Regions from separate parts of the Homo sapiens genome. Here region 1 is linked to region 2. The links come from fine-mapping of genetic effects on gene expression. A gene starts in region 2. The other region holds a variant in brackets. All regions are shown on one strand. Distances are between the middles of the regions.

What was found. PIP is the estimated chance that this variant, and not a neighbour inherited with it, causes the effect.
Region 1: its variant is fine-mapped to the expression of IL5RA in whole blood (TOPMed, PIP 0.94).

The regions. Positions count from the first base shown.
Region 1 is chr3:3,023,825-3,040,005 of GRCh38, reverse strand. It overlaps CNTN4 (contactin 4), which reads right to left. Exons shown (of 25, transcript NM_175607.3): 15 at 13,729-13,904; 16 at 9,031-9,151; 17 at 5,216-5,374; 18 at 2,678-2,827; 19 at 1,003-1,073. It overlaps CNTN4-AS1 (CNTN4 antisense RNA 1), which reads left to right. Exons shown (of 4, transcript NR_046554.1): 4 at 1-345. Among named protein-coding and RNA genes, the nearest start is that of CNTN4-AS1, 29 kb to the left of the region's middle. RefSeq lists enhancers at 1,350-1,459, 694-1,893, 9,241-9,410. The variant T/C (reference allele first, on the strand shown) is at 7,059.
Region 2 is chr3:3,106,057-3,122,237 of GRCh38, reverse strand. It overlaps IL5RA (interleukin 5 receptor subunit alpha), which reads left to right and starts at 11,864. Exons shown (of 12, transcript NM_175726.4): 1 at 11,864-12,293; 2 at 13,547-13,688. LOC124909339 (a long non-coding RNA gene) reads left to right here. Exons shown (of 2, transcript XR_007095786.1): 2 at 1-241. RefSeq lists an enhancer at 12,419-12,498 and a silencer at 12,579-12,698.

The sequences.
Region 1 (16,181 bases), 82 kb after region 2:
CACAGTAGTTTCACTCAAATGCAAAAATCGTTTTTGTTTCCCTTGTAACATTCTTGTCTACATCCTTCTCCACCCATCTTATTTGGCGTTTTGTTAACAGTCTTTTAAATTTAGGGCTTGCAGTCAGTCTATCTTAAACAGTTATGATGTACTGGACAGGGTTGAAAACGTAATGAGGATCTGCAGTCCAGAGCTTGCTCTTTGATGGGGCAGACCCAGCTCTGAAATGGTTGGAAATGATTGTAAAAAAAAAAACACTGGACATCGGTCTCCTGAAAAACCACATTTCCAACACGTATCCTCTAATACTAATCTTCTTCCATTGCCAAATAGACAAAAGATCTCACTGAAGGAAGAAAAACCATCTTGGCTGAAGATCCTCCCTCTCAGAGGGAAGAGTTCAGCTGGAGGGATGAGTGATTTCTTTCACTGCTGTGCTTTGGGTAAATGAGAGATTTTAATTTCTGGGGCTGTTTAGAATCTTTCAAAAACATGAAGAACCCTTTCTAAAGCTCCCACCTCTTCTCTCAAAGCCAATTTTTAATAAATTGGTGACTAACTTTCCTCCAGGTTGTTTTAAAAAATACCTCCTAAAAGAGGGCCCCTTCTAGAAGCAAAGCCAATTGCCAGGAAATTGTGCTGGTGCACTGAATCTATTGCTGGCAGACGTTTTAAATCAATTGGCCATGCAGCAATTCAGGAAGAAAAGAAAAACTAGTTTTCTCTGAAACAGCCTTCTTTATTTTTTTTTGTAACGTGTGTTGTCTTCCCTTCATAATTGTTTTTACTGTGATGGATTGAATTAAAACTTGCCTCAACAATGGATGGGCAAGTGCCGTCCTTCCTGCTAGCCATTAGCTACGTGAGAGGGAGTGTCTGAACCCAAATGAATTTTCACTGTTAAAAACAGAGGAGGAAACTTCCCAGCTATGTCTAACATGGAGGAAAATAATAAAATAGCTTCGATGCGTGTACGTTCCTTTTATTCTGTGATTCATTTACCTCCCAGGTTATAACCAGTTCAGATTTGCTGCCTCCGCCACCACTGACATTCGCTGGTGTGACTTCGGGGACTGCACAAGGAGACAAAAAACAAGTTATGTCAGGCGGCAAAGGCGAATGAGGGCCAGGAAGGTTGCCTGGCAGAGGTGACTCACTTTCAGTGAGTACTCTGAGGCACGCCCCTTTGTCTCTGGAGATCAGCAACAGCATTGTCAAGGGGCCCACGGCGACCGCTCGAGGAAGTGAAATGTACCAAGGAGACTGCTATTAATTACCTGTTTCCCATTCAACAAGGCACACGTGTTATCTGACACGTCTGACCAATTGTTCAGCTCCATCCCTAGAGGCCGAGGGGTTCCCGAAGGGAGGAAAGGACTGAAGTCTGGTCCTAATGTTTGGTTATGCGTTTATGAGCCACGTGGAGATACACAAAGGGAAGAGTACAAGCTCTGCCCAGGCAGAGCTTACAAGCTGGTTGGAGTGGAGGAGCGCCTGCACCAGTTAGAGCAAGGTCGACAACCAGGGTAAGGAACAGTCAGCATGGAGAAGCGGGGGGCGTTCCGGAGTAGCGCCCTGCTCAGAGCTGGGGTGGGCGAATGGCTTCTGGGAGGAAGAGTTTTGATCTGAGTGTTGAAGGAAGTGGCAGACAGAAGTTGACCCCCGGCTCACTGAGCTTAACCTCTTTGATCACCAGTTTTCTCTATAAAAGAGAGGAAATTATGCGAGCTTCCACCTCAGGATTGCTGAGGGGAATTAATTCAATTATGGTTTTGGAAGGGGAAAAGAAAGCAGGGGACTAGCTATATTGTCATCACGTAACTGAAAGGCTCCGGGCCACATTTAAAAAGGTCTCACTGGGGTATGTGGCTGGTGACTGGGTATGTCTCCTTGGTTAAAGCCAATCAAATAGATCTAGATGAGTTTTTGCTTTTCTGAGAGTAGGGTCAGAACTCCTATTTGTGTAGGGACCTTATTATTCCTTCAACACACTGGCCTCTCTACAGGCGGGAACTCTATAAAAGACGGCACATGTAGGCCTCTTGCTTTACACCAGCTAAGTAAAAGTACGGCTGACCCTGATGAACTTGTTCTTCTCTCCCCGTGCTCATTCAAGCTGCATATGCAGAGGGCCATACTGAATTGCTGACTGGTCTTGTTCGAATGAGCACGATGTTCTGAATCTTCGTTTCTGGGAATGGTTTATACCCTAAGAAAGATAATCTAAGTGAACATTTCTGAAGAAATTATTTTTTATTTCTATTCTAAACAGGATTACCCCATGGTGGCTGTGTCCAGAGCAGTCACAAATTATTCTTTGCCATTAGTTACTTATGTGAGATAATTTTATTTGAAATGTGGGATTTTTTTTTGAAATTCTGTTAGAATCTTGGTGACAAATGAACCAATGAAGAAAGGGCTGGCTTTTGAGAGGACTAAGCACCGTGTGTCTCTTGCTGTACAAGTGGACCTAATGAAGAAAACAACTCTTGATTGAAACCCGTTGCGTGTTCAGCTGGGCTTCTCCTGGCCTGATTTCTATCATTATAAACATTTAAAGGGAAGGGTGAGCTAACACAGAGCCGCATGAGCGCTGAAGAGCAGCAAGAATTCAAACGCTTTTCCTAAGGAACAGCAGCTGGCAGAACAGATGATCTGAATCTCGGGTGCTACTCACGAGCTTCTTCTGTTCTCCGTTTCTCTGAGGGGCGGCTGGGCTCCCCAATCCCAATCACGTTGGCTGCAACTGTGCGGAATTCATATTCAACCCAAGGGTTCAAACCCACCACGGTCGCTGTGAATGTCTTCCCATCAATGAGTTCTGGGACTGAAAGACAACAAAAGGTGGGGGCTGTTTCATAGGTTCTCAGAAAACAAATGCAGAGATTACGTTAGGAAGATAGGAACATCCATCCATCCTCATCATTATTGTATTCAGGGCAGTGTAGGTGTTCTGATATTAGCTGCATCAACAGTTGTTTCAGTGAGGTAATCTCAGAACTATCTCTGTATGTTAAACTAACACACTCTAATCAGATACCAGCAGATGACATCATAAAAGACACACAGTCCACAAGACCCCAAACTACCTGACTCAATCATTACTATCACCCCTTCACATGTGTTTCCGCATTTATTGTATAGTGCCAGACACACTATTTCAACTATCCTCTGAGAAAGGTAAAAGTATTATATTCTTTTTTTCTTTTCTTTTTTTTTTTCTTTTTTTGAGACAGGGTCTCTCTCTCTCTCTCTCTGATGCCCAGGGTAGAGTGCAGTGGCACAATCTCGGCTCACTGCAACCTCCACCTCCCAGACTCATGCAATTCTTGTGCCTCAGCCTCCTGAGTAGCAGGGACTACAGGTGCATGCCACTATGCCTGTCTATTTTTTTTTTGTATTTTTAGTAGAGACGGGATTTCGCCTCATTTCCCAGACTGCTCTCAAACTCCTGGGCTCAAGCGATCCACCCGCCTTGGCCTATCAAAGTGCTGGGATGACAGTTGTGAGCCACTGCGCCTGGCCTATATTCATTCTTAAACAATTCTTATTGTGCCCATTTAACAGAAGAGGAAAATGAAGATGTATAGAGATCAGCTGATTAGCAGTCAGGTCTAGAATTCATCTCCTAACTTCTATATTTTTCTCATATTTCCTTCTTAAAGCACACCTGTGACTCAGTGATTACAGAAGGAAACACAGAAACCCATTTCTAAGGATTAGTAAACTAAAGTGAAAAAAACAAATGGGTTAAAATCAACAAGATTTATATGAATTGCTCAACACTGGGCATATTCTCCTTCAAAACATCAAGGCCATATAGCCTACTTTTGCTGTCTAGAGGAGTGTGTATCTTTGTTTGTAATAACTACTTGTTCATCCAATTTATCCTTAAATGAAATCTAAATAAGAAAATGAGTCAATTTGGAGGTACTGACAGAGTGGGGTTGGTATAAGAATTCTTTTACATGCAAAGAGAAATAACTGTGAAACTTTTAAAAAATAGGAAGTGCTGTATACATGTAATAAAGGGAAACAGGATGGAAGTGTTGCTGCTAACAATGTTTTTTTTTTTTTTAAGAATTTGTAAAATTGGTTAAAAAGAAATCTCATGTCTTTTTATCCCCAAATTTATCCATCTAAAAAAATGGGGCTGGACACAGTGGCTCACGCCTGAAATCCCAGCAATTTGGGAGGCTGATGGAGAATTGCTTGAGCGCAGGAGTTTGAGACCAGCCTAAGCAACATAGCAAGACCTGTCTCTACAAAAAATTTTAGAGAATTAGCTGGGTGTGGGGGCCTGCGCCTGTGGTCTCAGCTACTCAACAGGCTGAGGTGGGAAGATTGCTTGAGCCCAGGAGGTCGAGGCTGCAGTGTGCTGTGATTGTACCACTGCACTCCAGCCTGGGTGACAGAGTGAGACCCTGTCTCAAAAAACACAGCAGCAAGTGAAGAGGCTCCCTATAATCCTCTGTTATTGGTTTTTGAGAGCACTGTGTAAACTTTATGAAGTCTGTGACTATTAAGTGACTATAGTCAGGCAGAATCCGCTGCTTTCCAAAGTGAACCACAGTGCTACACAGATGATTTTAGGTAATACAGATTGATGCATTTTATTTTTATAACTAATATATTTTTAATGTGTGTTACGGAAAATACATATACAACCAGCACAACAGACTTTTTTTTTTTTTTTTTTTGAGACGGAGTCTCACTGTCACCCAGGCTGGAGTTCAGTGGTGTGATCTTGGCTCACTGCAACCTCTACCTCCTGGGCTCAAGCAATCCTCCCACCTCAGCCTCCTGAGTTGCTAGGACTGCAGGCACGCACCACCATGCCAGGCTAATTTTTGTATATTTTGTAGAGAGGGGGTTTTGCCATGTTGCCCAGGCTGGTCTGGAACTCCTGGGCTCACGCGATCCATCCAACTCTACCTCCCACAGTGCTGGGATTGCAGGCGTGAGCCACCAAATCTGGCCTGGACATTACCATTTCACAGATACTATTGCTTAGGATGAGTTTAAAAAAACCCAACTGTGATTTGATATAAAGAAAAATATTAATGATAGTACAGTTGGCCGAGGTTTAGGAAACACTGCCATAATATATCATTTGTAGTAGTGTCTGAATGAGAACTTAGACGTTCCTTGCCACAGTGCTGTGTCCAGTATGCTGAGTTCCCAATGTCTCTGAGCCAAGCATCCAATATGGTACCTGTACTGACTGCTTGCCAGCCCACGGAGAATGGAGTCCTGGCTTGAATGACATACATGGTGATGGGGCTGTGGTTGTCAGGCCCGGGTCTCCAGGAGAGCTGAGCAGTGGTATCTGTGATTTCGTCTATTGTCACAGCCTCTGGGGGACCTGGAGGACCTGGGAAAGAGCAAGACCCCCAGAATTGGAGCAGTGTATTCAAACACCCAAGTAAAGGAGCCACATACTTGAATGGGGCATTGACCCATTCATTTATCTACCCATTCACAGATTCATCACTTGTCAAATCCTTTTTGAACTCCTACTACGTGCTTGGAACTTTCCTGGGCTTGGAAACCACAGAGGTGAATGAAACACAGCCCCTTCCTTCTAGGGGCCCACAGTTTAATATGAAAAACTAATAGGTAAACAAATAATTACAACTGAATACTTAATGTTAATAGAGAGTATTGGGGTACCATAAGAGCCCACATTCATTAATTCATTATTTATTTATAGGTTCCTAATATGGGTCAGACAGTGTTATTTGAGGATACGGTAGTGAGAAAAGATAGATATTGCTCCTGATTTCATAAAGAGTATAGTCTGCTGGAAATGGTTATTTCTACCACTGAGAATATAGATTTAAGCACAAATGGCTTTAAAACTTTGAAGGTTACAGTGTTGCTCTGCACATTCTGCTGCACTGTAATTACTAGCACTCTCTTCACATCCAACCCTGCTTCCCACGTGAGCACACACTTGCGTGCAAGGGAACTGCTGTGAAAATGGCCGGTGCGCAAGAGTCAAGGCGCTCCCTTCTTCAAAGCAATTTCAAAATTAGGCTAGATACTAAAGACCCTCATCTGTAGTTTCTGCAACTCATACCCGTATTTTTCTACTTCTCTTCCTGATGTTCGTTGTTTCTGTCCATGTACTTAAACCATGGAAAGGGGAGGAAATCAGATTTAAATGAAGGCTTGAAACTAATAAAGAAATAGAGGGATGGAAAGCAGCTGGCAGGTAAAGACAAAATATCAACAGAGCCAGAGCAAAGACCCGCAGCTATCCCACTTTCCAACATGAAAATCTCTTACCAGGCAGTTAAATGCATTTTTAACAAGGTACAATTGACCACCTCAGGAGGGAAGGTGATGGTGAGGGGACATAATGACAAACCTCATGCCCATTAGACGGGCATAAGGAGATGTTCCTAGGAAGGATTTGCTAATCCCCAGTCTAGCAATCAAATGTACTACCCAAATACTATCAGGCCATGTCACAGGGACAGGGAAAAAAGAAACCTCTCACAGAGCAGTGCAAAATTAACAGCAATTTCCTGAAGTTAGCCTTTGTTCTAGGATTCACTCCTTCACCGTTTACGTGATGCCCTAAATTCCCTTTCCTTTTTTAAAAATCACTTTTATAGACCCACAGGTGAGACTAAATTTATCTTCTCCCTCCCACTCCTGAATGAAATGTCTGGAAATCTGTATGCTGGAACTGATTAATTTTCCATGGTGACATTTCAGCATGTCAGTCTAATGTCACCTAGATAGAGCTGATGTAACCTTTGGTCTTGGGACCCCTTTTAACCAGATAAAGTCTAGAAGACAATATAATTTTTTTCACTAGTTTTCTCATCCTAGCATTCCCCACCATTTTTTTTAATGGATGCTGCACTGATGTCCTTTAAAATCTAAGTACCACAAATAGAAAAGTGTTTCCCTCTGAACTCTTCAAAGAATTAAATCGATAGGAAATATCTGAGTCCATTGTTGGCCTCTCTATAGGAAGAAAATGAAGGGCTGGTATGAGTTTGGACACTGGAGAGAAGATGGTAGTTTCCTGGATTTGTTTGTTC[T/C]TTTTTTTATCTTCCTGCCACCCTCTCCTACCGATGCATAGCTACGACCTTACAGAATGTTTACCAACTTTGTTTTAGGGAAGTGGACTCCCTCTTTCAAAATGAAAAATGTACAAATGTTTGTCCTCTGAACAAAATGATAACACACTCAGGGGCATGTAGAAGATTTTGTTTCAGGCAATGGCAAAGGGAAGATTAGTTTGATTCTGGGGTCTGCTTCTCCCTCAGGAAGGGTGGCCTTTCTGGCTGCCATTACAGTGCTATAGGTTAAATAGAACAGGCCTCAGAAAATCAAAGAATCTGGAGCCAAGACTCAAAGCTGCTATACGTTTCAAATATGAAAATGTCTTTCAGGGTGGTGAAATACATTCCTGCCTCCCCCTCTGTAATGTGCAAGAAAAGCTGCAAGGGCAGAGCAGAAGGAGATAAAATGAAAGATTATGGTTTTAAATGGCACATTAATTTATTGGCCTTATTAACTGATTAGACTAGATTTTCTTTTAGACTGCGTTTGCAAATTCCTCCTGGTATTTAATGTTATTTTCTGTGAAATGAAGTATACAATATCATTTAAGAACTTCAAGTATTGCTGATTTAAATATTTATTAGTCTAATTTATTGGTGTTTTAACTGCTGATCTGAACATTATCCTAATTAAATAGAGGATAAATTTTCAGCAACAGAATTCTTTTGTTCCCAAGGGGAGGGCAGACCAGCCTGGTGTATTTTCAAATGGAAATAAACACATTTCTATAAGTTATTCTGTGGGCAGATCTACCTCGGTTGAAAGTTTTTTCTCATTTCCAGCCCTTGTCTGCACTGTTGCTGAAAGTTTTTTTAAAGGCAATTGAAAGGGGAACAAAGCAGACACATTGGAATTGCTATTTCTCTTGAACCCTCTCTTCACAATCAGTTTAAGTTGGTAACTCCCACACATTTCCCCCCTTACATTATGCCTAGAGGATACAGCAACACTCTTTATGGCTTCCAATAATACCTTGTTCTCTGTGCATGCAGATTAACCCTGCCTCCAACGCTCATACCCTAAATTTTTATTTTCTTGCGTTCGAAGTTTTGCCATGCGCTCTGCCAGCCGGCCAAAGATGCCTGAACACCAACAGTCAGGGATTCTGATGAAGGAGATTCTAGCTAAGATATTATTTTGATGTCTGGATTGGCCTCTATTTTAATGCTATAGAAAACCCCTGAGCATGCATAGGTTGGATTCTGGTATGTACACTGGTTAGTGAAGATTTTAATTTTCATTTAAAAATATTTCTTAAAAGTCCATTTACAGTTCCTTTGCCAACCGGTTTGGTGAGGCTTGGAATGTACTCAGTTGGTGTTGCTCAGCCGGGGGGGTCATAGCTCTTAGGTCCAAATTAGGTCATGCTGATAATATTCAAGAGAATCTCAAAAATGTTAGTATTTACATCAACTCTCAGCTCATTTACTACATCCCAGGCAGTCAGGAAGTGTCCTCTCCCAAAACCCTATTTTAGGAACCGAACAGCACTGTGAAGTTTAGGGAAAAAAGGAAACTCGGATAAACCTGATGATGACTTTACTTAAGCTGCTGTTATACCAGTGGCCTAGGATACTAATTCAGTTTGGCCCAGATGAAACATAAAAAGGGACAGTTTAATCCCTCTTTAAACTATCTGCTTTTGTTCACCTAAATTTGTTCTAGAAGGTCATATCAACTCCAACAGCCGTAATCGGGTACTCGATTTACTCAATTATCCTTCTAGTGTAAAGTTACTGGATGTGTTCGGTGCATTTTCTGACAAGCCGCACTGAGGAACTGTATATGAACCAGAAACTTCTGTGGACTGTTAGCCACTGTTTACAATGTTCAGCTTCTGCCTGACTTTTTCCCATAATTCTAAACCACTGAGGTTTCTGGAACTCTGCGCTACAGTAGATATCATGAAAATATTTCAAGAACAACAATAACAACAAAATCCAGTACCTCTTACAATCAGGTCTGCAGCAGCAGATAGCCTGTCCACACTTGTTTGGACCATGCAGACATATTTCCCAGCATGCTTCAGTTGGATGTTTCGGATCATCAAATCACCAGCTGAATCCTGCTGATAAAGTAGGGGAAAGTGGCTGCAATTACTTTTTAATGAGCTCTAAATATCATTATCACATGAAGGACACGGTGACTAATGGATTTATTTTACACTGGCTGATGAAAGCATTAGTGATGCAAACCATGGCCTGTTAAAAATATGTGAGCCTGCCTGAGAGATGGGAACACCGACGTTTTCAGAACACATCTTCGACAAGACCTCAGGTGTCTGGCTTCTCTGAGTCTCTGGAGCAGTTTGGCACCCATGTCGGAAGGACGTAAGTTACATGCTACATAAGTCCTACGTACTACGGTGGCTCTCGATCTAGTTTTGTGAGTTTCTTCAGAAATGCCCTCAGCCTATGGCCTTGGTTGGCGTTCGGATACTTTAGAACTCTGTATTTGGAAAACGGAAGCAAGCCCACATTTGGAAGTATCTGCATTTTATTGCTCAACCCTTTCTTAGAGCCAGCATTGTTATTGCTCCCAGGTTGGAATGAAAGGATTAGGAAGACCAGATTCTCCAAGGAAATCTCGCATCACCTAGTGTGGAACAGTGCTCATTTGGTTTCCAAATGCCAAATGCATGTTTGATTAGCAGAAGAATGGGACTAATTACATCCTGGTTTGGATGTCTATGCGCCCCAGAAATATTTCTCCAGCATTCGCCAGCACAGTACTTTTAATAAATGTGAGGAGATGATTCCACAGGCTATCACAAAGGCAGCACTTTACCTGAAGAACACTGCTACACCTTGGAGTTTGGTTCATAGCCCTGTTAATCCAAAGTTTGGAGAATAGCTGCTTGATGAAGAGACCACCCTAGAGGCCAGATTTGAAAAAGTACACTTCATTCTAAACCCGTAATGGATGACAAGATAATTTAGGGTATATTGGCCCTCCTTCATTTTCCCATTCCAAACTATACAACAGGAAATTGACACAGACTCTTGTGTTGCTATTTCTCCAATGACAATAGTAATGGATGATGTTTAATGGTATTTACTATATGACAGGCAGCTTCCAAGTACTTTACCTATATTAAACTCACTAAATACTCACATGTCCTCTGAGGCAGGTATTCTTGTTATCCTTATTTTACAGATGAGGAAATTCCAGCACAAAGAGGTTAGGAGTCTTGCCTAAAGTCACGTAGCTAGAAAATGGCAGAGCCAGGATTTGAACCCATATAGTCCCTGTTCTTAACAGTAACACTAGACTAGCATCCGGAAAGACCATATCCTCATTCTATTTCAAAATTAATATGTATTTGGTTATCTCCATCGTTTCAGTACAGAGTGTCACATTCACAGGATAATGGAAGAGATAGAATTGCCAATTAGAAATACGATTAGAAGAGATGCCAAAGCATGGAGTGAAGGAAGAGCTACAGTTTTGGTGCTTAGTTGTCTTGGGCTGATTCCTGCTGTGTGATTTCATCTAAATCTCTTAATCTCTCTTGGCCTTGATTTACTGACTTTCAAAAGACCTTTATTGACCTTCATGCTAGGTTGTGAAAATCAAATGAGATTATCTGTGTTATGTGAAAATCTTCTGAAACCTTGAAGCGTAGATTAACTCTAAACTGGTATTACTGACAGCCATGATCCATTTTTTTGTGAAACAGACATGTCCAAGATGTTAAATCTAATTCAGGAAAAGCTATGGTATTTTAACCCAAAACGTCTTTTGTTTGTAACACTTGGCTTCTCATCCAGATGCCACTGTTTACGGATCAAGTCTTATAATTGCTCAATAAAATGGGAAAATAATTGTTAACCTATTTGACAAGATTTCTGTGAGGATTAAGGAGCTATTACAGTCATCCTTTGGTAGACACAGGGGATTGGACTCAGGACTCAGGACCGTAGTACACTAAAATCCACACATACTCAAGTCCTGCAGTCAGCCCTCTGGAACCCGAGTATATGACAAGTCAGTCTTCCATATATGTGGGTTATTTCACATCCCACGAATATTGTATTTGCAATCTGAGTGTGGTAGAAAAAAAATCCACATATAAGTAGACCCATACAGCTCAAACCTGTGTTGTTCAAGGGTCAAGTGTATATAAGAAAGTACCCGATAAATGATTAGGCACTTTGCAAGTATCAGGAATTATCACTATTATCATCATCATTATTAAGATTATTGATACTTTACCTAAGAAATTTCACATATGGGGACTTCGAATACAGGTTTAAATAAAAAATATGCCCCAGGGGATGCGTGCAGGGAAGGTGGGAAGCCACATTGGCCTTAGGGAAATGCCTATACCATCTATCTAATTCACTTTATTCATGAAGGGCTTAAATGTCAAAGAAACTTGCAGCCTGGATATTTCAGAGCACAGCAACCTATTAATAGAAAATTTTGATTTTGCGATTCAGAAGTACTGTAGTTATTTACACATTTTGACTGGATTTGTGTTTTTAAAGTAAAACTGAAACAAAGAAAAAAATAGAGTGAGGAGTGAGGTAAGAGTCTCATCAAAGCAGACCACAATAACTTTCTCTTTCCCTTTGAAGTCACCCAGACCCAACTATTAACTAAGATCTACATTTTTTATGTTCCTACCAAAGAAAACAACAGCATCTGCTTATTTTCCACCACCGCAGTCTGTTGTGTTCCTGACAGAATACTCGGTGGGGATGGGGTGTATCAGAGGACAATGAAATAATAACTTTTATAAAACCTCAATAGGTTAACTCTATACCAAGCATCATTTCCACCATGCTGACCCAGGAAGTCGAAGCTGAAATAGGCTTGACTTCAAAATTGCGCTTGCTTATCTCTTCTATTGTCAAGTCCTGACTCCACAGACATTAATGATCCTAGTGGCTAGTACACTTAGATCTCACATGTGGTTGTGCTGTCCTTAATTTTCTATGTATTTCTCAGCAGAAGTTGATTGGTGTTAGCACTAGTTTAACAGGGGAGATAGACATTTTCCATATGAAAGATGAATGTGAGCAGCTCTACGGACAGCTGTCTTTACAAAAGGTAGTCATCAGTGTTTGACTTCATTAGGTGTCCCTGTTTCTGCCTTAGCCCTGGCACCATTCTGGCATAAAGGCTACATGTGTCTGAATGGTAGGACGTCCACTTCGATTGGTCGGGCATCTGTTTTCATTGGTTGGTGCTTGCGCCATTCTGAGATTTAGCATTTTTAATATCTCTCCTGCCCAAGAAATTGGTTTTAATGTGAGAACATTCTGCTTAATTTATGAAGAATGTTCTCGATTTACACTTTCCTGTTATTACAATCAATGTTACCCTTCCTTCAATTAATACCACCATTAAAGTTTATCAAGTACTTCTTTTGTGGTAGACATTGGGCTATGTACTTTCCTAGACCTCAGGATATTCAATATCTCCAATGTCTTTGTGAAGTAGTTAATATTTCTTTCACTTAGCCAAAGTTATTAAGCTGAACCATGTGAAAGAGGTCCAGAATGGTTTACGCTGGCAATTTCATCCAGCCTTTCTCAGTCAGGGTCCCAAGAGATAATCCCTAGTGAACCCAGGCATCCACTGATGTAACGAATTAACTTCTTTCCTGTGCCATCTAAAGTTGTACCAATCAGATACCACTCTTGGCATAGAACTGAGACAACAGTCATTGAAATTGTTTTGGGCATTCTGTGACTCAACTGCAAAAACCCTGTTTGATAAAGGTAGTAAGACTGTGATGAACAGGGCTAGTACTGTAGTTGGGTGGAAAATATGCTCTCACTATATCACATGGATGACTTTAGGCCACTTATTCTCAACGTAAAGGGGGTGGACAGATTTTTATAGCAGCCTAGGAAGTGGGGAGAGCTTTTCAAGTCAGGGCCCCATTTTTGTATTCCGCTATGTTTTGGCTGGACTCCATCATAAAAATGGCAGCCGGAGTCCATCTTTATTGTCAATGGGATCACAGAGGTGCGTTAGAGCAGAAAAAAATTTTTTGACAATGATTGTGATTGATAGGAATTGTTCCCAGATTTAACCTCTTCTTGTTATGTGTTCAATGATAATATACCGTTATGGAAAGGAAGGCATTTTGAAAATCCAATCATTTTGAATTCAAATTACCTGGAGATAGTAAATAACCCCATCAGACTTTCAAATTCAAGAAAGAAAACCCTAAATTCACAATGACGTGCCTTCTACAAGGTCAAAGGGAGTTTAATTAGCAGCCTAAAAACAGAAGGAAACTATCCTTAAGCTATTTTCTTGGTCAGATTCTAGGATATATGATATGATATGTGACACAGAGTTTGGGATTTGAAGTTTTAAGCTGAGTTCCACAATTCAGTAGCTATGAGGCCAAGGCAAGTCATCCAATGCCTGTGAGCCTTAGTTTCTAATCCATACACAGGAATGAATAATTAACCTGTAGGATTGGTGCCAGTTAGGGAGCAGTCCTGCCATATAGAGTTGTTCAATGAGTGATGCCACATTTATTGTGCAAAAAGGAGCAGGAATTAACCAAGAGTTTCTTGCCATAAGATTACTTGAACAAAATTCTAAAATAGTAACTTTAAATATATTGTTAAGTTGGTCTAAACAAGTTAGTTTGAGTCAGTTTTTGCTATTAATACTTACCCCTCCAACTCTTTCAAAGTGGTCCCCATCTCTGTCAAAGTCTATCAGGTGTCCATTAAATGACCAAGTAAACACGATGTCTAGCGAGTGATCATGCGTTACCTGGCACGGTAAAACAATACTCTCTCCAACAGTGACATCCATACTGGAAGGGGGTACCATTACCCTTGTTGGATCTGGAGAGTTAAAACAAAACAAACAATAACAACAACAAAGTCTGTGAGCTTGTGTGGAAATACAATGTAGACTCCAAGAGCAGGATGAAATACTAAGTAATTTTGCTTTATTTTTTCTGAGGCTGTGACCAGCAAACCTCAGTCATCTGGGAAGCTCAGACTCAGGCCAGGAGGTCATTTTTAATATGAAAAGATGAAAACACTCATTATGTGAACCTTCTCAGAGCAACAGAACTCAGCCAGGGAGCATGGAGGTGAGATCTCTAAAGATGCTCGTGGAAGGGCTTACTTTCTGGCAGCCTGCTCTGAATTGCCTCTTTGAAAAGGTTTTCGTCTCTCTCCAGTTTCACTAGAAAGCTACATTTCAGCTGAGTGCAAACAGGAAAAATCCATGTTGATTTGAAGTTTGTTAGGCTCTTTTTTTCTATTGTAAAAGTAATAAATGTTTTAGCACAGGTAATTTAGGAAATTCAGGAAAATTAAAAGAAGGAATAGAAAAACAAATCCTACCCAGATAAAACATCTATTTTCATGGTGGTATAATTTCCCCCAGTCTTTTTGGTTCACAGTTTTTCAGTTGTTTTGTTTTACACCATTATAAAAATGAGACAAATACGATTTTCCTTTTTCTCCTCAATATTGTATAGGCATGTTTATTCCTTTGTCAACATAATTTTATAATCTGCTTTAAGCTTACAGTTTTAACCATTTTGAAACTAGTTGGCATTTTAGCAAATTTTATTAGACATTTTTCTAATATTTATAATTAGAAATAATAAATAATGCTGTAATGAACATCACTGACAAAATGATACAGGTATATTACTTTTTAAAAATAAGGACCATCAATTCGCTTTAAAATTCACCCTTTACATTATAGTTTAAACTGGGAATAGAATGGGCTTGCTTAGCTGAGACAGTTTATGAACTCCAAAACTACATTCACACCCATAGTGCCTTATTTTTCTGCAACATGATTTCATAAATGGTGTCAGAGAGTACACTAGTGAGAAGCAGTTTGAATTCAATGTAAAGGCCGCATACATGCCTAAAGAATAAAATTCTGAATTAGGCCATATTCCAGAAATTTCTACATACTAAACCAAACCGAGCCAATCAAACAATTACAAAGAAGACAAACCAAAACCAAACCAAATAATAAAAGAACACTGACTAATCCTCTCCCATAGTCGCGGGATTGCATTTCAGGCTGTGAGGTACATAAATATTTATTCAGGGAACCTCTGGGATTAAAATATCCGCTGGGAATTTTGTAATTATATCTGACAGGAGAATTTTTGTGAGTCTTACTTGCTGATAACCCATGCTAAAATTTCCTCTTTAAAGAGAGTATTTAAAACATTTTTTCTATCCTTTTATCCAACTACAGAAAGAAAATCTCTCAGTTACAAAAGGGAAATCTCTGTTCTAAATAGGTTATAATCTAGTAGTGGGATATACTTTTGTTGTTTTCTAAAAATAGGAAAAGATCATGATAAGTAGATTAATGTGCTTTTAGTCACTGTTAAATGAGTGATGTCCATGAAATGAGAAGTGAACAACAGGTACTGCCAGCAAAGAGGTAATGGGATAGAAAACCCCTGATTTGAAAGACCGAGGCTTTTGAGGACTACATAATAAAAATCCGCTATATTGATTCACTTACCATCAGGAATAGATAGTGATGAAGTTGTTTTTTTTTTTTTTTTTTTTTTTTAATGAGGAAAAGAGGTAAGTACAAATCTTACTCTAAGCAAACATCAAGGAATAGCCCCATTTTGACTTAACATGTCATTTGACGTTTTTAAATTTACATTTTCCTCAAGAAAAAATGAAGACTGAAACAGATCCCAGGCTAAAATGATATACCTCTATGGGTTTTATTTGATAAAGATGTTGCCTAGTTCTACTTTAAACAGCTGCCCACTGATTCTGCAATTTAGATTTTCATTTTAATTCATTTATTTCTTGATTTATCCGCCAAGCATGGATTGTGTTTACATGGATAACACATATAACAGAGGCTGAAGGAATAAGAACATTCATAATAACTGAGTCCCTTAGCACTGTTAAGCACTTTACATGGATTATTTCATTTATTCCTAACAAATAGGTACTATTATCATCCCTATTTAACAAATGAGCAGACTGATGTCTAAGAGTCATTAAGATATTGTCTGTTGTGCGATTCTGCCTTTCTTTTCACTGAAAACACGATGTCCACATGCAAATCATGCAGGAATAAGTCTAAGGGCATAATACAGCAATTTACACTCC
Region 2 (16,181 bases):
CAATGAGCTGAGATGACACCATTGCACTCCAGCCTGGGCAACAGGGCAAGGATCCATCTCAAAAAAAAAAAAAGGCAAAACTGTAGAGAGAAAAAATGATCAGTTCTTGCCAGGGGGCTCAAGATGGGATGAGGTATTTACTACGAAAGCGCATGAGAGAATTTTGAGGGGAGAGAAAGGTGATAGATTTGTTCTATGTTTTGATTATAGTGGTGATTAAATAACTCTGTATTTGCCATAATGCATAGAACAGTATTGTATTAGTCCATTCTCACACTGCTATAAAGAAATACTTGCGACTGGGTAATTTATAAAGAAAAGAGGTTTAAGGCCAGGTGCGGTGGCTCAAGCCTGTAATCCCAGCACTTTGGGAGGCCGAGGCGGGTGGATCACGAGGTCAGGAGATCGAGACCATCTTGGCTAACACGGTGAAACCCCGTCTCTACTAAAAATACAAAAAAATAGTCGGGTGTGGTGGCGGGCGCCTGTAATCGCAGCTGCTCGGGAGGCTGAGGCAGGAGAATGGGGTGAACCCGGGAGGCGGAGTTTGCAGTGAGCCGAGATCGCCGAGATCGCGCCACTGCACTCCAGCCTGGGTGACAGAGCAACACTCCGTCTCAAAAAAAAAAAAAAAAGAGGTTTAATTGGCTCATGGTTCGTTCGGTCGGCTCATGGTTGGGGACGCCTCAGGAAACTTGCAGACATGGTGGAAGGTGAAGGGGAAGTAGGCTCCTCTTACATGGCCAGAGTGGGAAAAAGGAGTGGTGGGGAGGTACTGCACACTTTTAAATTGCCAGATCTCACTGCAACTCACTATGAGAAGAACAGCACTGATGGGGAAATCCACCCCCATGATCCAGTCACTTCCCACCAGGCCCCACCTCCAATATTGGAGATTACAATTTGATGAGAGATTTGAATGGGGACACACACCCAAACCATACCAAGTACATTTAAAAGGTAAACTTTCCTGCTTATAAATTATACCTCAATAAGCCTCCCCCCAAAAGTAATTACATTTTTATATATTAGCAAAAAAAATTAAGAACATGAAAATTCAATTATTGAAGTATGTACCTATGAAAGCAGGACAGAACTTTGAGGTCATTAAACTAAAGGGTGAAAGAACTCTGGACAGAATGCCCAGTTCAACCCCTTAGGACATGGTGAAGACAACCAAAGCGGTCTCAAACTCCTCTCTCCCACACAAGACGTTTTCTATTATCTCTTAATATAGACCCATCCTAAAGGAAATAAAACTTTATCTGCAAAGGAACTGACATTTACTGCACAGAAATCCTACTGGAAATATTCTCTCTCTGTAGAACATACCCAAAAGTAAATACCATAGACAGGGAGTGCTGTTAGCATCTGGCAAGTTTATACCTTTCTGTGGAAACACCACAGTCATGAATATTACTCTTCAGTTAGAAGGCTACACATTATTAAATAAATTCAGGAGGCCAGGAGTGGTGGCTCAATTTGGGAGGCTGAGACATGCAGATCACTTGAGGCCAGGAGTTTGAGACCAGCCTGGCCAACTTGGTGAAACTCTGTTTCTACTAAAAAAAAGAATAATAATACAAAAACTATCTGGGCCTGATGGCACATGACTGAAATCCCAGCTACTCGGGAGGCTGAAGCAAGAGAGTCGCTCAAACGTGGGAGGTGGAGGTTGCAGTGAGCCAAGATCCCACCACTGCACTCCAGCCTGGGCAATAGAGTGAGACTCTGTCTCAAAAAAAAAAAAAAAAAATCAGAAAAGTAAGATAAGAACAGCTTAGAAGTATATATCAATATTTCTTAGATACACCAATGTTAGGTCTGAACACTGGTTCGAGTGTCCTTCAGTGCTTACTAGAGATGCCCTCAAGAGTTTAGCAATTGCCTCAAAGAGCTTCCATCTTTCTTCATAGTAAACCAGATCTTAGATCCGTTCTTTGTACATCTAGTAGCCAAAATGTGGCTCCCCAGTGTTCAATTGTCTCTTGGCTTATCTAAATTTTGACTATGTGTCTGTGACACTGATTCATTCTGCACACTAGAGAGAGAAGCAATGGTACACACAGAGAAGTTGTGAATGTAACATTACTTCCATTCATTTATGCATTCATTCATTCACCAGAGGTTTCAGTGCTCACAATTTGCCAGTGGCATGGGTAATACAGTAAGAATAAGGCTACCTACCAATGGTATTGTGTTTAGAATAGTGCCAGGCATTTTATTTTGATTAATTTGTTTAATCTTCACAAACATCCAATTAGGTACTGTATAGAAGAGGAAACTGAGGCATAGAGAGGTTTATTTGTCTAAGGTCCTACAGAGAGTAAGTGGCACAAGCAGAATTTGGAGCCAGATATTCTGCCTCAAAACCACCATTGAACACTGATAAGGCTGGAGAAGACGGCAGGGACTAGAGCATGCAGTGCTGGGTGCTTCTCGGGATGACATCTGGATTTAATTTTAATGGCAATAGCAAGATATTAAAGGTTTTTCAAAGCAGGGGTTTTCATAAACCTATCTGTGGTTTCCTGCCATCAGGCAGACTGCAGCATGAAAATGGGTTGGAGAGCCCAAGCAAGAGGCTGGGGCAGTTATGCCCAGGAGGGTGGGCCAGCACGTTGCCACAGTGGGGAAGAGAACTGAGTGAATGCTAGAGTCAAACTGGAAGGCGGTGAGGGTGGAGTGGAATGAGACATGAGGAAAGACCCCTGCATTCATTTCCTATGGCTGCTGTGACAAATTACCACAGACTTCAAGGCTTAAAACCACATTGGTGTATCATCTCACAGTCCTGGAGGTCAGAAGTCTAAAATGGGTCCACAGGGCTGCCTACCACAACCTCCGAGCCTGTGCTTTAGTAACTTAGTGGATGAAAAGATAACAGGACTATCAAGGAAAATGATGTCACAAAGAATTGATGGCTCGACTTAGCATTAACTGCATCAGCCTCAATGCTGAATACTCTTTCTATTCCCCCCAGCCCCACCCACCTTTCTGGGTTTTAGGCAGGTAGTTCAATTTCATTTATTCATTTAATTTTTTATTTTACTTTTTTTTTTTTTTAAGATGGAGTTTCACTCTGTCGCCCAGGCTGGAGTGCAGTGGTGCAATCTCAGCTCACTGCAAACTCTGCCTCCCGAGTTTAAGCGTTTCTCCTGCATCAGCCTCCAGAGTAGCTGGAATTACAGGTGCCCACCAACACGCCCCACTAATTTTTGTATTTTTAGTAGAGACGAGGTTTCACCATGTTGGCCAGGCTGGTCTGCAACTACTGACCTCAGGTGATCCGCCTGCCTCAGCCTCCCAAAGTGCTGGGATTACAGGCATGAGCCACAGGTAGTTCGATTTCAAATGAAAACCCACAGCCGAGTAGAGGTAGACCCATCAAATAGCAGGGTGAGACCTTACTGATGGAGTTCGCCACTGCCCACCAGCAATTACTCTAGGACTGTCCCCTCCACATCAGCCTTCCCTAACATATCACTGTTCCCAGTGCACTTATATTTTAAAATAGGACAGAGAAGGAAGAATAATGCTTTCCATAAAAATAGGAATTAGGCTGGGTGCAGTGGCTCACACCTGCAATCCCAGCACTTTGGGAGGCCAAAGTTGGAGGATCACTTGAGCTAAGGAATTAGAGACCAGCACCAGGAACATGGCCAGACCTTGTCTCTACTAAAAATAGATTTTTTTAAAAAAAGCAGCGAAGTGCGGTGGCACAAGCCTGTAGTCCCAGCTCCTTGGGAGGCTAAGGTGGGAGGGTCACTTGAGCCCAGGAGATTGAGGCCGCAGTGAGCCATGATTGTACTACTGCACTCCAGCCTCAGCAACCTAGCAAGATTCCAACTCAAAAATAAATAAAAAAGGACAGTGAAGGGAAAATAATGCTTTCCATAAAAATATGGGTTAGGCTGGGCACAGTGGCTCACACCTGTAATCCTAGCATTTAAGGAGGCTGAAGCAGGAGGATCATTTGAGCCCAGGAGTTTGAGACTAACCTGGGTAACATAGTGTAACTCTGTCTCTGCAAAAAACTTAAATTATAGCACTTTAGGCCTCCTGGGGAAGATATTTGAGGCAATATTTAGACAAGTCAGAAAAAACATAAATATGACCTAATTTTAATATTGTGCAATTTATTCACACCCCTCCCCACCCTCACTTTTCATTGTAAGTGACACTGAGTAATTTGTTTAAAAGAACAAGTTCTGTTTCAAGAATGTATTCTTTCTTTGAAACAACCAAAAGTACCTGTTTGGGGAAAAAGTCATTTGCTAGTTTTGTTCTCATAAAAGTTTAATAGAAGGCAACTAAAGTTTAAGATCTCCCAGAGGACAAATAAAGATATTTCTCAGCAAATGTAGAATCGCAATTTTCATTGGTGCTGGGGGATTTTACACACAAATGCAATTTTATTTTACTTTTAAAAGAGGTAAGTAAATAGACAAATCAATTTTAGCTGCTCTGAAATGTCATACCGGGTCATTAATTTTAAAAGATGAGACTTCAATAATAGTTAAAAGAACAAAGGCCCAAGGGTAAAGACTGAGAATAATCACCTTCAAAATTCTGAATTATCAGCAGCCTCAGATCAGAATCAAGAGGAGCCTAATTCAGTTTCCTTGTGATGTTCTCCATTGCATTTTTTACCTTCAAAATATAGGTTCAAATGGAATTCCCTTTTACAAAAACAGAAACCCTCTTTCCTTAAAGCACGAGGACCTCCTCTGTGTGCTGGATACTAGGATGAATTCTGGCAAAACCAAGCTCGATAAAATAAAGACCTATTGTCTAATCTACATTCAGATCGGAGGTATGAGACTTGCACCTGGCCATCTCTGTGGTGGAGACAGAGATATAAACATAATATTTGGTATGATATAAAATTTAAATGAGGCCAGGCATGGTGGCTCATGCCTGTAATCTCAGCACTTTGGGAGGCCAACGCGGGTTTATCACTTGAGCTTAGGAGTTCGAGACCAGCCTGGGCAATATGACGAAATCTTCTCTCTACAAAAAATACAAAAATTATCCTGGCATGGTGGTGTGCGCTTGTAGTCGTAACTACTTGGAGGGCTGAAGCAGGAGAATCGCTTGAGTGCAGGAGTTCGAACTGCAGTGAGTCATGATTGCACCGCTGCACTCCAGCCTGGGAGACAGAGTGAGACCCTCAAAAAAATTACATATTTTATATATATAACATATATATATAAATATATATATATAACATATATATATAAATATATATATATAACATATATATATATATAATGTTAAATAGACAAATACAAGCAGCAGTTTAATGCACACTTGAGGGAAAGACAAGAGAGAGAGTGATCTTCCCAAATAACATCACATTCAGACTTATTCTGAAATAATCAGGAGTTTCTCAAGAGGAACTCCACACTCACCACCATCAAATCAGACAGTCCAAGTTAAACAATTGTACTGTTTTGTGAAAATAATAATTATGACAATCATGGAATTAAGGTTTTGACATTCTAGGCAATGTGAATTTGGAGAGCATCACAAAGAGTCTGTGCTATGTAAATTCTCTAAGCCTCAGTATACTCATCTGTAAAAGAGGTTTATAGAGCTGTGATGTGATCGTGTGTATAAGGCAACTGACAGTCCCAGGAACATGGTAGCTTCTCTTTTGACTGAAATGGGACATTAATCTACATTAACAACATAAGTTTAGCCCAGGTGTGGTGGCTCATGCCTGTAATCCCAGCACTTTGGGAGGCCGAGGTGGGCAGACCACCTGAGGTCAGGAGTTCGAGAGCAGCCTTGCCAACATGGCGAAACCCCATCTGTACTAAAAAATACAAAAAAAAAAAATAGCCGGGCGTAGTGGCGCACACCTGTAGTCCTGGCTACTCAGGAGGCTGAGGCAGGAGAATAGCTTGAACTCAGAAGGCAGAAGTTGCAGTGAGCCTAGATCGTACCACTGCACTCCAGCCTGGGTGACAGAAAGAGACTCCATCTCAAAATAATAATAATAATAATAAGAAGAAGAAGTTTAATTGTGTAGTTTTTGCTATTGTTTTTACACATTCTGGTTGATTTCCTGTATCTGGTTTTCAGAGCAAAGAACTGGTCTCTGACTAAAGAACTGAAAAAAGGACTAAAGAACTGAAAAAAGCTTAAGCTACTGAAATTCTTTACTGAATAAAGATATGCTTTTAATTTTAGCTACATGGGATAACTCAACAGATTGATTTTACACTAGAATTTTTCTAACGATTACCCAGAATTCTGTTTCAATCCTTTGAGGGTATCTAATCCTGCTAGGGTATTTTTTAATGACAGTTTTATTGAGATATAACTTACATATCATAAAATTCACCTATTCAAAGCGTACAAGTCAATGGTTGTAATATATTCACAGAGTTGGAAACCATCAATACAATCAATTTAAAATATTTGTGTTATCCCAGAAGAAAATCTCATACCCATTAGCAGTAACTTCTTATTTTTCCCAAACTCCCTCCATCCCCCGGCAGCCCTAGGCAACCATGAATCTATTTTCTATCTCTATAGATTTGCTTATCCTGGACATTTCATATAAGTGGAATCATGCAGTGTGTGATCTTTTGTGACTGACTTCTTTTACTTAGCTTCATGTGTTCAAGGTTCATCCATGTTGTAGTATCAGTGCTTCTTTTGATGGCTGAATAATATTTCACGGCATGGATATACCACATATTCTTTATCCATTCATCAGTTGCTGGACATTTGGGCTGTTTTCACTCTTTGGCCATTATAACTAATTCTTCTGTGAATATTCACATATAAATTTTTATGTAGACACATGATTTTAACTCTCTTGGGTGGGTATTTGCCTAGGAATGCAATTACTCAGTCGTATGGGAACTCCACATTTAACCTTTTGACGAACTGCCAGGCTGTTTTCCAAATTGGCCACCTCACTTTACCTCCCCAGCAACAGTATGTGAGGGTTCCAGTGTTTCCACATCTTCATCAACAGTTGTTATTGTCCTTTTCATTTCAGCCATTGGAGTGGGTGTGAAGAGGTATCTCAGTGTGGTTTTCATTTGCATTTCCAATAGCTAATGATATGGAGCAGATGTTCCTAGGCACCTTTGCTGTTGGTACATCTTCTCTGGAGATATGTCTGTTCAAATTCTTTATCCCATGCTTAAACTGGGTTATTTTACTTTTTTCTTTCTATCTTTCTTTCGTTTTTTGAGAAAGGTCTTGCTCTGTCACCCAGACTGGAGTACAGTGGCACGAACACGACTCACCAGAGCCTCAAACTCCTGGGCTCAAGCTATCCTCCCACCTCAACCTCCCAAAGTGCTGGTATTACAGGCTAAAGTGGGTTATTTTTCTTTTTATTGTTTGGTTTTAAGAGTTTTTGACATATTCTAAATAAAAGTTCCTTGTCAGATATGTCTTTGCAAATATTTTTCCCATGCTGTGGCTTGTCTTTTCACTTCCTTGTATTTTATTTTATTTTATTTCAGACAGAGTCTTGCTCTGTTGACCAGGCTGGAGTGCAGTGGCACGATCTCAGCTCACTGCAACCTTCGCCTCCCGAGTTCAAGCCATTCTCCTGTCTCAGCCTTTGAGTAGCTGGGATTACAGGCACCTGCCACCACACCTGGCTAATTTTTGTGTTTTTTAGTAGAGACAGGGTTTCACCATGCTGGTCAGGCTGGTCTTAAACTCCTGACCTCAGGTGATCTGCCTACCTTGGCTTCCCAAAGTGCTGGGATTAGAGACGTGAGCCACTGCATCCGGTCTTTTTTCACTTTCTTCATGGTATCCTTTGAAGCACAAAAGCTTTTAATTTTGGTGAAATCCAGTTTATCTATTTTTTTCTTTTGTTGTGTCTGCTTTTGTATCTTATTGAAGAAACCATTGGGTAGGTGCGGCGGCTCATGCCTGTAATCCCAGCTCTTTGGGAGGCCAAGGTGGGTGGATCACCTGAGATCAGGAGTTCGAGACCAGCCTGGCCAACATGGCAAAACCCCATCTCTAGTAAAAATATAAAACTTAGCCGGGTGTGGTGGCACACGCCTGTAATCCCAACTTCTCGGGAGGCTGAGGCAGGAGAATCGCATGAATCCAGGAGGCAGGGGAGTTGGCAGTGAGCTGAGATCATACCACTGCACTCCAGCCTAGGCGACAGAGTAAGATTCTGTCTCAAAAAAAAAAAAAAAAAAAAAGAAAGAAACAAAATGAAGGTCATGAAGATTTATGCCTATGTTTTCTTCTAAGAATTTTATAGTTTTGCCTCTTACTTTTAGGTCTTTGATCCCATTGGAATTCATTTTTGTCTATGCTGCGAGGCATTCTTTTGCATGTGGATATGCACCACTTATTGAAAGGCTGATCTTTTCCCCGCTGAATTGTCTTGACACTCTTGTCAAAAATCAATTGACCCTAAATGCGAGAGTTTATTTTTGACTCTCAATTCTATTAAATTGATCTGTATGTCTCTAATATTTTTTAAAATAACTTTTTCTGCCTGCATTTGTACAGAATAAAACGTTTGTAAATATAGAAACACAGAATAAAAGTAAGAGAAACACTAACCCTGCCGTGGTAGAATGAACTGTTGGTCCCATTTCTTCACTCCCCACTAGGAGTTGTCCATGTCCACATCCTTATCATGGCCTTATCATGGTGGAATGTACTTTGGGCTTCGTCCATTTGACTCCGGGCTTGGCCATGCAATTTGCTCAGCCTCTTGAGATGTCAGGGAATGTGACATGAGCAGATGCTTGATGCGTGCTTGTGCAGTTGGTCCTGCTCTCTTGCACTTTTGCTGTCACCATAAAAAGATTATGCCCTGGGTAGCCACTGGTTCCAAATGAATGGCAGATACTTGGAACAAATCTGAACTCACTTTGTGATCTGGATCCCAGCCCAAGATTAAGCAGACCCCAGTCAAAACTCAGACACATGGGCTACAAATACATGCCTATCACAGTTTACCACTGAGGGTTCTGTGGTTGCTTGTTCTGTAGCAATAGCTGACTAATACACCTACCACTTAGAGATAACTATTCCTGTTAGTCTGATCTTCTGACCAAAAATAAGACTGTAAAAAAAAATTACATGTGTGTATACCCTCCTGTTGTTTTTACTTAACATTTTTTCATAATACCCTATGTTATTAAAAGTTCTTGATTGGCTCATACCTGTAATCCCAGCACTTTGGGAGGCCAAGGTGGGAGGATCACAAGCCAGGAGTTTGAGACCACCCTGGCCAACATGGTGAAACCCTCTCCCTACTAAAAATACAAAAATTATCTGGCATGGTGGCACATGCCTGCAATCCCAGCTACTCCGGGGGCTAAGGCACGAGAATCACTTGAACCCAGGAGGCAGAGACTGCAGTGAGCCGAGATCCTGCCACTGCACTCCAGCCTGGGTGACAGGGCACCACCCTGTCTCAAAAGAAAAAAAAAAGTTATTGATAAACATTCCTTTTGACATCCACATCACATATTTCAACCTTGAGCAGTTACATATTTCTCTTCACCATTCCTATAGTACTTTTACTATTTTACTATTGTAAAGGTACAATGAATTTTGCTCTCTTTTGTATAAATCTTGATCTACATTTTTCCATTATTTCCATGGAATCAAGTTCTAGAAGTTGATACCTTTAATAAGCTCCTTTAACCAAAGTTCATGGTAGAGCCACTGAACCATGATTTTCGTTTTATTACTATTCATATTTCTATTTGGCTAAACTCACATTGTTTTGCTTAAAGGATGCAGACACATTTAATTTCACTTTTTAAAAAAACGACTTTTGTGAATTCTTCCAGCATGTTCTATCATACTGTCTTTGGACGTTTACACTTTATTATAAAGAATTAAATTATTGCCATAAAAAACCAAACAGGCCTCGCTCAGTGGCTCACGTCTGTAATCCCAGCACTTTGGGAGGCCGAGGTGGGTGGATCACCTGTCAGGAGTTCAAGACCAGACTGACCAGCGTGGTGAAACCCCATCTCTACTAAAAATACAAAAAAATTAGCTGGGTGTGGTGGCGGGGGCCTGTAATCCCAGCTACTCAGGAGGCTGAGGCAGGAGAATCGGTTGAACCCGGGAGGTGGAGGTTGTGGTGAGCTGAGATCGCGCCATTGCACTCCAGCCTAGGCAACAAGACTGAAATTCCATCTCAAAACAAACAAACAACCCCCCCGCAACCCCCCGCCAGAAAAAAAAAAAGTCCCTGCCTCTCATTTTTTCGTTTGTGCTTATACAGAAACATAGAGACAGTGTTTCTGTATGAGCATGTGTTTGCTTTGTTTGTTTGTTTGTTTTTATTGGCGTAGTTAATTAAAGATCATATACCCAGGAAGGTGGTATGGAAGGAGCAGCCAGATCTAATTTTCTTTATACCCTTCACCGCGCCTAGCATAGTGCATAGGTGCATTCAATGAATATTTGAGTAAATGAATGTAAGAAATATACAGACCATTGGCTGAGTGTGGTGGCTCACACCTGTAATCCCAGAACTTTAAGAGGCCAAGGCGGGTGCATCACTTGAGGTCAGGAATTTGAGACAAGCCTGGCCAACATGGTGAAACCCCATCTCTACCAAAAATACAAAAAATTAGCCAGGCGTGGTGGCGGGTGCCTGTAATCCCAACTACTCGGGAGGCTGAGGCAAGAGAATCGCTTGAACCTGGGAGGCAGAGGTTGCAGTGAGCAGAGATTGCGCCACTGCACTCCAGCCTGGGCGACAGAGTGAGACTTCATCTCAAAAAATATACATATATATATACGGAGAGAGGCCATTAAAGCAGGCTTTTAAGCCAGAAATTACTGTCTTCCCAATGATTAATAAGTATTTTTAAGGTTTCATTAGTGACAAATATGTTACATGTATAAACAGATGGGCAGGACTTAAAAGAGTAGGCCAGATAGTTGATACTATATCTAAACTTTTCTGGGTGCCTCTTAGCAAATAAATGGATCTCTCTCTGTTCCTTGTTTTACTTCCCCTTTCCCCGAGGAAAATCACATTTTTCAGGTCTGACAACAATTTTCAACCTGATAACAATTGCTCCGGTTTCATTTTGGCAACTGCTAAAATGGTCACCTTGGGAACCCCAGGCACACACGCTGACTGTACTTGCACAGCTTCTACACTGAGCCTTTTGGAAATTGCCTCCAGGAAGCCTGTCTCTCATCTCACAAACAGAACCACTGATCCAACCTGGGCCACCATCTTTCTGCATCTGCTCTGTCTGAGACTCTCCCAGTCAGCTCCTAAGGAGACAGGGAATCCTGCATCACTCATCGCTTAGGCTAGACTGAAGGTCTCCTTCCAAAGGCAACTACTTACTACTCTCTGCCGTGGGTCATACAATAAGCACTACTCTTATCTATTCACACGCTAAGCTACTTTTTTAAAGCCAGCTTTGCTAGCTAGCCACCTCGAAATTCCCCAGAAGGAATCAAACAGAAATGGAACAAAGGACAGGAAAAGCCAAGGAGGTTTGCTGAAATTGAAGCATTCTGAAGACAGCTGGGTGGTAAAATGGATGTGACGTGAGGAAGGTGGTCTTGGGTGCACCCACAGACCAACACTGCCATTGTTACAATTTGTGTAGGATGATCTCAGGTGACAGACAGCAGCAATTTATCACACCCAGAAACGCATCCCCCACACATATTTACTTGAGGGTACCAGACCTGCTCACAAAGCAGAGAAGAGCTAAGGCGGTTCTCTAAGGGCAGAGAATTGCTGCTATTGCCTAGTGAGTGGGGAGAGGGTACTCCTCAGGCCTTACTTCCTATCAAATCATGTGTCAGTGTTGCCTAGGAGACAGAGGCACAGTAACTACTGTAGCCAAACAAGGCACATAAACAAAACAGAAATGCAACGCTTTAGAGTACCCACGGAAAACTTGTTTACCTTGTCACCATGAGTAAAAGTTAATTCCCACTCCTGAAGAGAGCAAACCAACTCTGAAAGAGAGTGAAAATGCAGACAAGACAGTTATCAGATAATGGCTATCTGGACGAGAGATTCTTTCGTTTGACAGCAGTTTGGTTGTTGGGAGTTCCAGTTCAGCTCCTGCACAGTTGCTCTGTACAAATCCTCCTCCATATTTGCTTAGAGAAAACGTGTTGCCATCCCATCATGAAGGAAGCTGCCTGAGAGTTTTTAACCATTACAGCCGTGATGATGAAAGAGTGAAGAACCGCCTCTAAGTTAAAAAGTGCACCCAGAGATAAGGTTCGTTCTCAATGCCCTGCCGCTGCTTCTCATCGCATGGCCACCGCATTTCTCAGTAAGTGGGAATCAAATGCTTCACTCACCACAGAGTAAGCAAATAAATATCTTTTTTCTATGACATGGGCTGTAACAATACCCTGTGCTCCACCTCCTAATAATTTCACTACACCCAGGGTGGGGAGGAGGGTTAGGAAAAGCAAGAAACAATGACTTCTAAATATATGACAAACTTGTAAACAACAAAAAGGGGAAACAAAACTCCTTATAATTCTATTATTATTAGCAGGGACAGAACTAATAATGGTCCCATTAAACTTGCATCATTAGGCAGGTCATGTTGATTCTGGGTATAACCTTCTATTCTTGTGTTTTGGCTCAGTAAGTGAGATGTGCAAATCCGTGGCAAGGTGAGTCATATGAAAACAACACCTATGGTTTTGTTAGTGCTTACATCAATATAAGACATCTGTTTTCCACCGCTCCAGATAATTATGCAATTAAAATGAGAACATATATTCTGCCAAGATTTCTTAGAAAATAAATGAGCTTCCAAAATAGGGTATAGGGTTTAATAAAATATCTCAGGAAGTTTCAGAGTTAAGCAAGAAATCTACAAATAAAGAAACAACAACAAAAAGTAGAGAGAGGCACTTTATCTAACTGAAGGAGGCGTTCTGCTTTTTCTTTCTGGTAGGGGTTCTTGGATTTCCAAGATTGTTTCATTGTATATAAAATGTACCCAAATTTGCTGAAATATGTCACTTGGTTTTGTGTTCACTAATGTATTTACCTAAAGCAAGGTAAGCATATTTCCATGTAGACAGAAAAAAGGATGAAATGGAACCAAAAAAAAGGGGGAAAAAGGAGAGACAGAGCGAGAATATTTTAATACCCTTGAGCCTAAAATTAATAAACACATGAAAAGTGATGGTGCTTTTATAGCCATGTGAATAATGTACTTAGTACTTGCTTTAATGAATTACCATACTGAACATTTTATTACCTGGCATGATTTCTATTTTAAGTGAATATGTCCTCTTTCATGGTTATCGAAAAAGGAATTTATGTAGCTATTTGTTAAAAGTTTGCATTTCAAAGCAAAATAAAGTTTTAGAAGTTAAATCACCTCATTTGTTTATATTATTTGAAACACCGCATGGGAAATTTTTAGGCAAAATACCAAAAGTGGGCCAGGCTTGTTACACACTCCCCAGCCTGCTGCTCTCCTGACCTAACTCATTCCTCTGTTAGGTTTCACCGCACATTGCACATTAGGGCTGTGCACTAATTTGCTTCTATTCCACACAGGGCCAGGCACATTGAGCATTGGTCCTGTGCCTGACGCTATGCTAGATGCTGGGGTTGCAGCCACGAGCATAGACACGACAGACACGGTCCTCGCCATCTTCTGTTGAGTACTGGTCGGAACAAGAGGATCGTCTGTAGACAGGTACGCCCAGGAGCATGGATGTGAGATGACAAATTGCACCATGTGCAATTGGCAGGAAATATTTTGCTACTGGGATATTTGTAGCAAACTCTTTCTTCTATTTTTCCAAATACTCAAGGTGGCAACACCATTTCCACTTGGACTGACAGAGAGTTTTATGTTTACAGCCACAACCTGAACTCATGAGTTCTATTTTAGGACTATTTCAGAAATTTAATCAAAAGTACAGTAGTAGTAAAAAAAAATTGCATGCATGATAAGTGGTCCTTATTATTCATTTATATATTTAGGAATGTGCAGTTTTTCATTGGGGGGTAATGCAATATACCTAGGTAAACATGTCTTTTGCAGTTTATACCTTGGTTTATTCTTCATCCCCCAAGAGATAACTTTTATTGCTGATTATACTGTACAGGATAAAAGAGAAAGTAAACTCTTCATATTTAAAAGCCTACCAGAGCATGAATCCTCTCAGTTGCTTTACAATTTCTGCCACTAAGGTTGAGTCTGGAATTAGGTGTTACCACAGTTGACTCAAAAAGGTTTTAAAAACAGGGGTGCCAGTATAACTTTGGTTATAAAACGAACGCCCCAGGCAGAAAAATAAGTTGGGAAAAAAAAGAGGGGAAAATATTTGTAAGTCTGAACTTCAGTAGAATTTGACCAGTTCTCAAGAACGCTGGGGAAATCCACTGCTAATTGTCAAAATTTTACCAAACTTCCTAGAAACACCTATAGGGAAGGAGACTGTGGTTGTTTTCTCCAAAATTTCAAAAAATGTAACACCTATCAGAAACTAGATTTTTAGAGAGCACTTGAGGAATTTTAGATTGACTCAATGAAATGTTATATGAGCAAGTAGATCATGAGATCATGATTTCTCTTAAAGATTGAGCATGTCTTCCTGGTGATAGATAAACAACCTATAGTTGCTTCATTCTGCTTAGTTTGCATCTTATTTTAACAATTTAATGGTTTTCTGCTAGATTTTAATTGGTAGCCATGAGAAGAATGAGTCGAACATATTGTCGATATATATGTTTAAGCTAATGAAGTCGCTCTATTCTTTTATAGTGAAATATGACCCAGTTGACATCTACATAACAGTGTATCTTTGGATTAAAGAAATGGCCTGAAGAGATTTGTTGTTGCTGTTGTTGTTGTTGTTTTAAGCAGGGACAAGAAGTATTAAGGGGCCACAGAGAGTGAGCAGAATTGTAGAAAACATGGTATCAAATCCTGAAGCTCTAGTACTATTCAACCTTATGTAAAATTTATCTGACTCACAAAAAAAAAAAAATGTCATTCTTTTTAATATTTAGACCCCTACTGAGTACCTTGTGCTGCCTATAGGACAACTGATTTTGTTCAAAAGCACCTCTTTTTAAATATGACAATGAGACATGAAAAAGCTGTCTATTTATTTATGGCCAAAAACTAATAATCAAAAATTTTTTGAATGATTAAATTTGAAAAACAATTCTATTTTTAGCAGCTATAAAATCAGAATACATGACAAATTCTAGGGGAGAGTGCTTGCTCATATAAAATATTCAATTATCTCTCCACTGAGATATTCAACAGTTTTATCATTTACTTCAACAATTTAATTGCAAAGGATAAATACATGTTTATTGCTTTTACAAGTACATTTATAACATAGTTTTACTTTGCCAGTCAGTGAAAGTCACAAAGAAATATTAATTTTGCAGTTTTTTCTGACCTAGAATTCCTATTATTGAAAATTAGTGCAAAATCAGAGCATATTTAATATTATTTCAGGAAATGCTGACATTTTAAGAAATCACCTTCATAACTTAAAGAGGAAGCTATCTTTGTTGCTGTTCTTAAGGAATTTTTATCTTTGCTTCTCAGGCTTAGTAGATTACTAGTGTTTTCCCTTAATTCATTAAAATTCTCACTTGTTGAAAATTTTAAAAAAATTATAGAGTACCTGCTTTTGTTGTCATCGTCATCGTTTCATTTTTTTTTTAATTTCTACATGGTGTGAAATCCTCAGAGAAAAATAAACAGGATTTTAAAATCAAAACTGGCATACTTCTGATTAACAGTACTTAAGCTTATTTGACAAGGAATTGAGTGATTTATATGCCGATCCTTTCCTGCTGTTTTGGCATTTTACCAATTTCATTAGTAAGTTCAGCAGTAATTGTAGCAACTTAAGTAATAATTTAAGAAGTAATAATGAAGTTAAGAGTGTTCTGTGCTATTTCCTGGAGGTATTCATTTAGCCCAGGTCTCTCCTGTGGTTCTACTGGAATTATATTTGGAAAATACCAAGCCACTTAAATAAATGTTTTAAATGAAATTATAAATCATTGTAATTAGTACCATAAAGTTGACAGAGCATAGGTTTTGCCATTGGAAGATCAGAGATTGGGTCTAGGCTCCATTACTTAACAGCTGTTTGATCTTTGGCAGATTATTTCAGCTTTCAGACTCCTTTCCTTCATGGGTAGGAATAACGTCCAT